2 linked regions of the Homo sapiens genome follow. The protein of the gene in region 1 purifies or fractionates together with the protein of each later gene. This does not show direct contact. Each region holds a gene or a part of one and is shown on either strand. Other genes may lie near its edges.

Evidence for each region. Proteins that work in one complex are often made in the same cells at the same time.
Region 2: the proteins of TBC1D16 (region 1) and CTSC purify together in Homo sapiens (affinity purification with mass spectrometry; one large-scale study listed by BioGRID and IntAct). This does not show direct contact.

The regions. Positions count from the first base shown.
Region 1 is NC_000017.11:79,948,873-79,952,372, reverse strand, and holds part of TBC1D16 (TBC1 domain family member 16), read left to right. Parts: intron 1-775; coding exon 776-923; intron 924-1,519; exon of another isoform or gene 1,520-1,611; coding exon of another isoform or gene 1,612-1,617; intron 1,618-1,778; coding exon of another isoform or gene 1,779-1,794; coding exon 1,795-1,962; intron 1,963-2,507; coding exon 2,508-2,656; intron 2,657-3,366; coding exon 3,367-3,500. UniProt on the Homo sapiens protein: May act as a GTPase-activating protein for Rab family protein(s).
Region 2 is NC_000011.10:88,334,937-88,339,189, reverse strand, and holds the start of CTSC (dipeptidyl peptidase 1 isoform a preproprotein), read left to right. Parts: upstream 1-1,453; 5' UTR 1,454-1,517; coding exon 1,518-1,689; intron 1,690-4,107; coding exon 4,108-4,253. UniProt on the Homo sapiens protein: Thiol protease. Has dipeptidylpeptidase activity. Active against a broad range of dipeptide substrates composed of both polar and hydrophobic amino acids. Proline cannot occupy the P1 position and arginine cannot occupy the P2 position of the substrate.

The DNA.
Region 1 (3,500 bases):
CCAGGGCAGAGGGTAGCAGCTGCCGGCGGCTCTGATCGCCGGGGGATGCTCTGGAGCTCGGCCACCTGTGCGGGACGGGCCGCAGCTTTCCGGATGGAGGCTCCCTTCCTTTCGTGATGGGTGGGCGATGCCTAGTTTCCTGCAGTCATTCCCCACACCAGATCCTCCTCCTTATAGTCAGGGCTGCCCAGCCGCAGACATCACCAATGAGAGGCCCGGGCTTAGAAGAAGCCGGCGTGTCCAGAAGCTGGGGGGGTTCCCAGACCCAGAGCCACATTCCAGCCTTTCATCTAAGGGCAGCCGGGGCTGGGCTGACAGCACTGACGGATGTTTACTGAGTTTCCCTGGAGGGTTCTCCCAGAGTTCCACCCACACGCAACGAAGGAGGTCTGTTCCCAGGAGGTTCTCTTAGCACATGGCCTGCCAGGGCTCAGAACTGGATTCCAGGGCACTCAGCGTTGGGACCCAGGTCTCCCGGACTGCAGGGACCATGTTGCCGGGCAGGGGGTGGTGGGGAGAAGGCCACTCTGGCAGGTCTCCAGAGAGGAGCTCCAGGGCCCCCCAGGAAGGAGCAGTTTTGCCATCTTCGGCAAAGGGGGTGGTGGTTTTTGTTCGGTGTAGTTCTGTCCCCTCCCGCTAGCAGCCAACTCCACTGGGACTCACTGTTTCCTGCTTCTGAGGTTGGCGACAGTGGCCTCTGATTATACTTGGAAATAAAACCCCCGTGTTTACATATTCATCGGGCTTCCCTCTCCCCCTTCCAATGGCCCTTCAGCGACGAGGCCTGCACCAGCGGCCAGCTGGTCGTTGCCAGCCGAGAGAGCCAGTACAAGGTTTTCCACTTCCACCACGGCGGCCTGGACAAGCTGTCTGACGTGTTCCAGCAGTGGAAATACTGCACCGAGATGCAGCTCAAAGACCAGGTAGCCCAGCAGACGGCCCCAGAATGCCCAGCGGTTGACACTCCCCACCCCCCACGGGCCCCATCTCCCTCCTGGGTCCTGTGTCTGGGGTCCCCGGGCCCCGGGGGCTTACGGGGTGTGACCCACGGTAGTTTTTGGCCGTCAGAGCAGCAACTTTGGGTTTGAAACCTTTGCCCAGGGCTTTCGGTAAAGTCAGTGCCCTGCACTTGAAAAATCATGTTTTGACAAGACTTCCTGCCATATTTTGCTCAATCTACGTACAAATGTAATAAGAGCTCTTTAATTATCTGTTTAAGGTACTGTATGTGCTTATTAGAAATGGGGCCGATTTTAAAATTCCCTTCCTTCCCGCAGAGCCTCCTGCTGGCTTCCCTTATTACAGTAGCATGGCTTTTTTTCCCCCTACATTGAACAACCTTTGATTTTTGAATTAAATGTCAGCTGCAGTTTTGCCCTGGATTCGTGACTGCTCGCGGAGGCAATCTGACAGGCTGGCTCCCTGCTCGCAGAACAGCGATCCCTTTGTATGTGGCCAATCACATGTAATTCATTGCAGGCCCTCCCGGCAGAGGGAAGTTAGGCCGAACGAGGCATTCATTCCGTTTTTGCGGCTGGGGTTGGAGAGAGTGGGGGGCGGCGGCACAGTGGGCCGGGGAGGAGAGAGCCGCAGAGGGAAACCGATTTTAAGATGAAGGTATTTTCATTTTAATTGCGCCTAATTACACTCGCCATTTAGGGGTTTGTATGCAGGGGACGGCCCTTGCCCTCCTTTCAGAAGAGAGAGAGGCTTTTATTCCTGGGAAAAGCACTGCTGGCCTCTGAAGCCGCGCGGCTGAGATCCTGACCTTTGCCCAGTTTTCCTCCCGTCCAGCAGGTCGCCCCCGATAAGACATGCATGCAGTTCTCCATCCGCCGCCCCAAGCTGCCGTCCTCCGAGACGCACCCCGAGGAGAGCATGTACAAGAGGCTCGGCGTCTCCGCCTGGCTCAACCACCTGAATGAGCTGGGCCAGGTGGAGGAGGAGTACAAGCTGCGGAAGGTGAGGTCCGGGTCCGCCCAGCTGGCCCCGCGGAGAGCCGGCCGGGAACCGGGAACGAGCGAGAGGGAAGGAGGGCCGGGGCCTGGCCGCCCGCCCGCACCCACGGGCCACCTCCTCGTGAGGGCCCCGTTTTCTTGTGTGAGGCTCTCTGTGAACACACCGATAAAGCAATCAAAGCTGCTGCGTTGAAAAAAAAAAACAAAACACAACACCTCCCTCGAGGGTTTGGGGGGATACCGTGTCAGCCTGCATAGAAGGGTTTGCAGTGAAATGCAGCATTTCCAAAACCAGGGATTAGGCCATGACGTGAGAACGACACGTTAATCTGAGCGCCACCCCAGGGGGGGCATTGACATTGAAATGAGCCGGGTTTGTGTCCTGTATGGGAATTGAAGGCCACTGCTTTCCCCTTGTAAATATGTGCAAATTGCAGAGATCTGAATCAAGGCGCACCAAAAACCACCAAAACACACATCTCTGGGGATTTGGGGGTTCTTTGAGCTGCCCCATTTTATCCCCTCCCCAACTTTTGCCGCTTCCTCCAGGCCATTTTCTTTGGCGGTATTGATGTGTCAATCCGCGGGGAGGTCTGGCCCTTCCTGCTGCGCTATTACAGCCACGAGTCCACGTCGGAGGAGCGGGAGGCGCTGCGGCTGCAGAAGCGAAAGGAGTACTCTGAGATCCAGCAGAAAAGGTAACCGCCGGGGCCAGCCCGGCCCACCCCGCCGAGCCGCGGAGGAAAATGTCATTTGAAAAGGCAATTTGAGGTGCAATTCAGCATTGATAATATGTTTCGTGACCCATAGTTTCTTTCAAAAATGGGTCTCCCAGGAACGTGAGTGATAGGGTGGGATAAGTGCAGTCATTAAACCAAGCACTCGGGCCTCGGAGCTGCGGGGCTCGTTAGCTCACATGTCAAGGTTTTAGAATTCTCGTTCAACAGACTTAACTAGGCGCTGACGTCCCACAGCTGAAGGCTGGGGCTGGGAGCAGGGCCTGGAGGGGTGAAGGCATCCGGAGACTGTGTCCCACTTGGGATCTGCTAACCCGGGACTGGGCTCAGCTCTCTCTCCAGGAGGCTGGGACTGGGTGAAGCCCCTGGGCTGTGCTCAGCTCCCCTCCAGAACGCTGGGCCAGGGCCAAGGCCTCATTACCCACTGGGCTGCAACTTGCTCTCCTTCCTGGGACGCTGGAGACTGTGAGGCTGAGTTAATATCAAGGAGAGCCTTGGATACACGCCACCCATCCGCCGCATCCGGGGAGGGTCTGCAGCCGGCAGCAGCCGCCCAGCTCCCGTCCAGGGAACGGGGGTTGGGAGGAAGGGTGGCTTCCTGCAGTGTGTGCGCCACACGATGCCTCTGGGTGCCACCCGCTGACCCCGGCTGGGTGCTCGGCTCCACACAGGCTCTCCATGACTCCCGAGGAGCACAGAGCGTTCTGGCGTAATGTGCAGTTCACTGTGGACAAAGACGTGGTCCGGACAGATCGGAACAACCAGTTCTTCCGGGGGGAAGACAATCCCAATGTGGAGAGCATGA
Region 2 (4,253 bases), on another chromosome or scaffold:
TTATACAATGTCAGCTTTCAATTCTAAGAAGGTATATAAAACCTAAAAGCAAGGTGTTCCCCAACCCCCCGCCACCAACCCCGCCCCAGGCTTTGGAAATTTGTGCCCCCATTGAAGAGTATTTTCACCTCTGAACTTTCAAGGACAACTCCTTTTGCCTCATTGAAACTGGCTTTCAAGCTTGGCAACCAAGATAAGAATATTAAGTACACTTATTTTAACACTCAAGGACACTTTCTGAATAAACCAGAATCTAGGGAGATATAAGTGAATAATTTGGACCTGCTCTCTTTGAATGTTTATAATCTGGTGGAAAAAAAATGGACATATGAATATTGATTTGTGACCAGTGCAAAGGGGGCAAAAATTCATATCCCAAAGAAAACGGGGACACATCAGGTCTGTCTTGTTCATCACTGTGTCCACAGGGCCTGACACCTAGTAGGCTCAGTGGGAGAAAGGAGCCCCAATTACCAACAAAAGCCAGGAAAGAACGGGAGGCTCTTACGGAAAAGGGTGATACTTAAACTGAGCAAGGAGGCACCTGGAAATAGTGCCACCTAATAATTTTTGGCGATCAGACTGACACACTAGAACGGTTCATAAGACCAGCCTTCTCCCATTGGCTAGCTTCCTTCCTCACCCTTCTCACCCTGGGCAAGCCGCTTCCTCTCTCTGGGCCTCTTGCTTTTCCTCTGTAACATAAAAGGGGTTGAGCAATATCATCTCTGAGAGCGCCATGTGTGTGCGTGCCAGAGGGAAAACCCCCACAACGCTAATACATCAAAACTGCAGGTTTGCACAAAAACTGAATTCTGCTGAATGCAAACAGGCAAACAGCATTTACCAGGAAACAAAACAAAATCAAGCACATAAAAAAGTAGGAAGAGTTGGAAAACGGAAGGAAGATAAGTTCTCAAACAGCTGGAATAGTTGATGTTAGCTAGCGAAGTTTTTCAGAGGAAAAAACAAGAAGTTGGTTATGAGGCAAGTGGACCTGAGAAAAAAGACTAAAGGGGAAGAATAGCAAGTAAAACAGAACTCCACTTGCTAGATCTCTCCCTCTGTCGCGCTCTTTCACCTGACCCACTCCCTTATTCCCCCCACACCCTTTCCTTCTCTCCCTACGTTACCGCACAGGAACGAAGTCTGGGTCATGTGCGGACCGCTTGTGGCTCTTAAATCCTCTTTTTGTCACCCTGGCCGTGCAAAATTTTGAAACGTCCCTCGGCAAAAAAAATAAAAATAAAAAAAAAAAATCTGTCCCTGGCCTCTTCCCTAGTTCTGGGTCCAGTTGCAGCCAAGTGAGGGGCAGCGCGCGCTCCCAAGTCCCCGTTTCAGAGACGCGCACGCGCCTGGCGCCCAACCCCCAATCCCCTGCTGCTCAGTGACCCCGCCCACGGGTTTCCGGGCCGGCGTAGCTATTTCAAGGCGCGCGCCTCGTGGTGGACTCACCGCTAGCCCGCAGCGCTCGGCTTCCTGGTAATTCTTCACCTCTTTTCTCAGCTCCCTGCAGCATGGGTGCTGGGCCCTCCTTGCTGCTCGCCGCCCTCCTGCTGCTTCTCTCCGGCGACGGCGCCGTGCGCTGCGACACACCTGCCAACTGCACCTATCTTGACCTGCTGGGCACCTGGGTCTTCCAGGTGGGCTCCAGCGGTTCCCAGCGCGATGTCAACTGCTCGGTTATGGGTAAGCCGCCGGCTCGGCAGTCCTCCGGGTCGTCCTTTCTGCCCTTGAGCCCCTAACGCAGCGCCACGCCAACTACCGCTTCCCCCCAGGCAGACGCTTGTGGGTGGCCAGAGCATCTTGACTGGATTCGGGGACCCTTGGGGACCTTCTTCCCCGCCAGGCTCGCGAAGTTAAAGTTCATCTGCTGAGAACTTCTAACTCCACACTTTCTTGGTTATCTTGGGGACTCAACACTTTGATCAAGAACTTTTTTATTCCTCCCGCTTAATTTTGTTTGCTTTGAGAGAGACTTGGGAACTGCAATCGTTTGGTTCTCCAGTCCGATCTGGTAGCGTTATTTTTAAAATTTATTTTTATTTTTTATTACTATTTTACTAGTGAAGATAGATGAGCTCAGAGACTCTCGAGGATATAGCATGAAGTTTTCTCTTTTTGTTAGATGGTGGGAAAGGGACTTTCTGCCCAGCGATTTTGGTTTGAGCGGGTGTTGATGAGTACTAGAAAACGGCTAGTACCACTCTGCATTGTTTCATGCATTGCAAGGAGGTAAAAATTTTTTAAAAAATTAATAACAAAGAAAACTTAACTCTGAACCTAGTAATTAGAAATGCCCAGAGTCTGCACAATGTTTGGCTCATGGAAGGCTCTCAATAAATACCTAGTGTTTGAACATACTGGAGATATTCCATATGCCTTCAGATAACATGGTTACCCCTAGAACAAAGAACCTAGTGAAGGGGGTGGGGTGGAAAAAAGACAATCACTAGTTAGAAGAGTCACACTGTGGTCTACCCAAACCCTCTTACAGCCTGTGACTTCTGCAGAGTCAGTAAAAAATCAGCTATAATTTTCTTGTCAACAGAACAAAGATTAAGTCATTTGTTACTAAAGAAATACCTTTTTAACTGACTGTATAGCATTTCATAATCCTGAACATTGTAACTTTTTTTTTTTTTTTTTTGAGAATGGAGTCTTGCTCTGTCACCCAGGCTGTAGTTCAGTGGCGGGATCTCGGCTCACTGCAACCTCCGCCTCCCGGGTTTAAGCGATTCTCCTGCCTCAGTCTCCCGAGTAGCTAGGATTACGGGCACATGCCACCACGCCCGGCTAATATTTTGTATTTTTAGTAGAGACGGGTTTCACTGTGTTAGCCAGGATGGTCTCCATCTCCTGACCTCGTGATCCGCCCGCCTCGGCCTCCCAAAGTACTGGGATTACAGGCGGGAGTCACCACGCCTGGCCTTTTTTTTTTTTTTTTTTTTAAATTTGAGTTTGAAGGTTGGGGCAGAAAGAGATCAGGATTTGCACTGCCCTGTCACATGCAATCTCCCATGTCAGAGCATTACTCTCAAACATGGAAAAACTTTAAAATACACAACTCTCCAGATGGACACAGCTGAATCATTTTCAGGAAGGCTCTGCCTATAAAATTACCTTTGGCCTTAATTCAGTAATTAAAGGCACCCACAGGTCTGAGCCCTCATCTATGAAGGTTAAACGTATCATTCCTATCAGCACTAATTGGTTTTATAGGATACAGACCTCTAGTTTGCTGAATAAACTTTGGAAGGATTCAGATTATGAGGTTCTAAACTGTAGAGCCTTTGAGGAGAAAGGTACCCCATTTCTTCTCCGAATAGATCATTTTGTGTCTTCTCCTGGGCTTAGCACATTGTCTTCCTTAGGATCTGATAGTCTGTTTATTTATCTTTTTGTTGTCATACCTTTTATTCTTGCATTTCCCACTTTTGACTAGCATTTTGCCTTTTCTCCGTTTCTGGAAGCCTGTAATTTTCAACATTCCCCATTTCTCCTTTTGTTCAGTGGAAAAATTTCTTCAGTGTTGGGATGCTCTGGAAAGGTACTGTAGTTTTGGGGGTCTCCCTGCCTGCTGGGCTGCATAGCATATCTCTCTTTTTTGAGACAAGGTCTCACTGTGTTGCCCAGGTTGGAATGCAGTTGTGCAATCATAGCTCACTGCAGCCTCCAACTCCTGGGCTCAAGCAATCCTTCCACCTCAGCTTCAGCCGCTCAAATAGCTGGGACTACAGGCAATGCACCACCATAACCAGCGAATTTTTAAAAATTATTTTTGTAGAGACAGGGTCTCACTATGTTGCCCAAACTAGTCTTGAAGTTCTGACCTCAGCCCCGCAAAGTGCTAGGATTACAGGCGTGAGCCACTGCTTCTGCTTGCATTATCTCAAATTTTTAGAGCCTAACTTCACAGTCTTGCCTCGGAGCAGGAACTGTTTGAGGCAACAAGATGGAGCCTCTGGTTTCTTCACTAGGCAGACTGTGCTCAAACTGGGTAGCATGAAAGGAAAGCAGCACAATTAAAATTGAAATTGGGGGATTCTTTCCCCTATTGAAATCCAAATAATTTTCCTTTATTGTGCTTTTTTTTTTTTTCTTTAGGACCACAAGAAAAAAAAGTAGTGGTGTACCTTCAGAAGCTGGATACAGCATATGATGACCTTGGCAATTCTGGCCATTTCACCATCATTTACAACCAAGGCTTTGAGATTGTGTTGAATGACTACAAGTGGTTTGCCTTTTTTAAG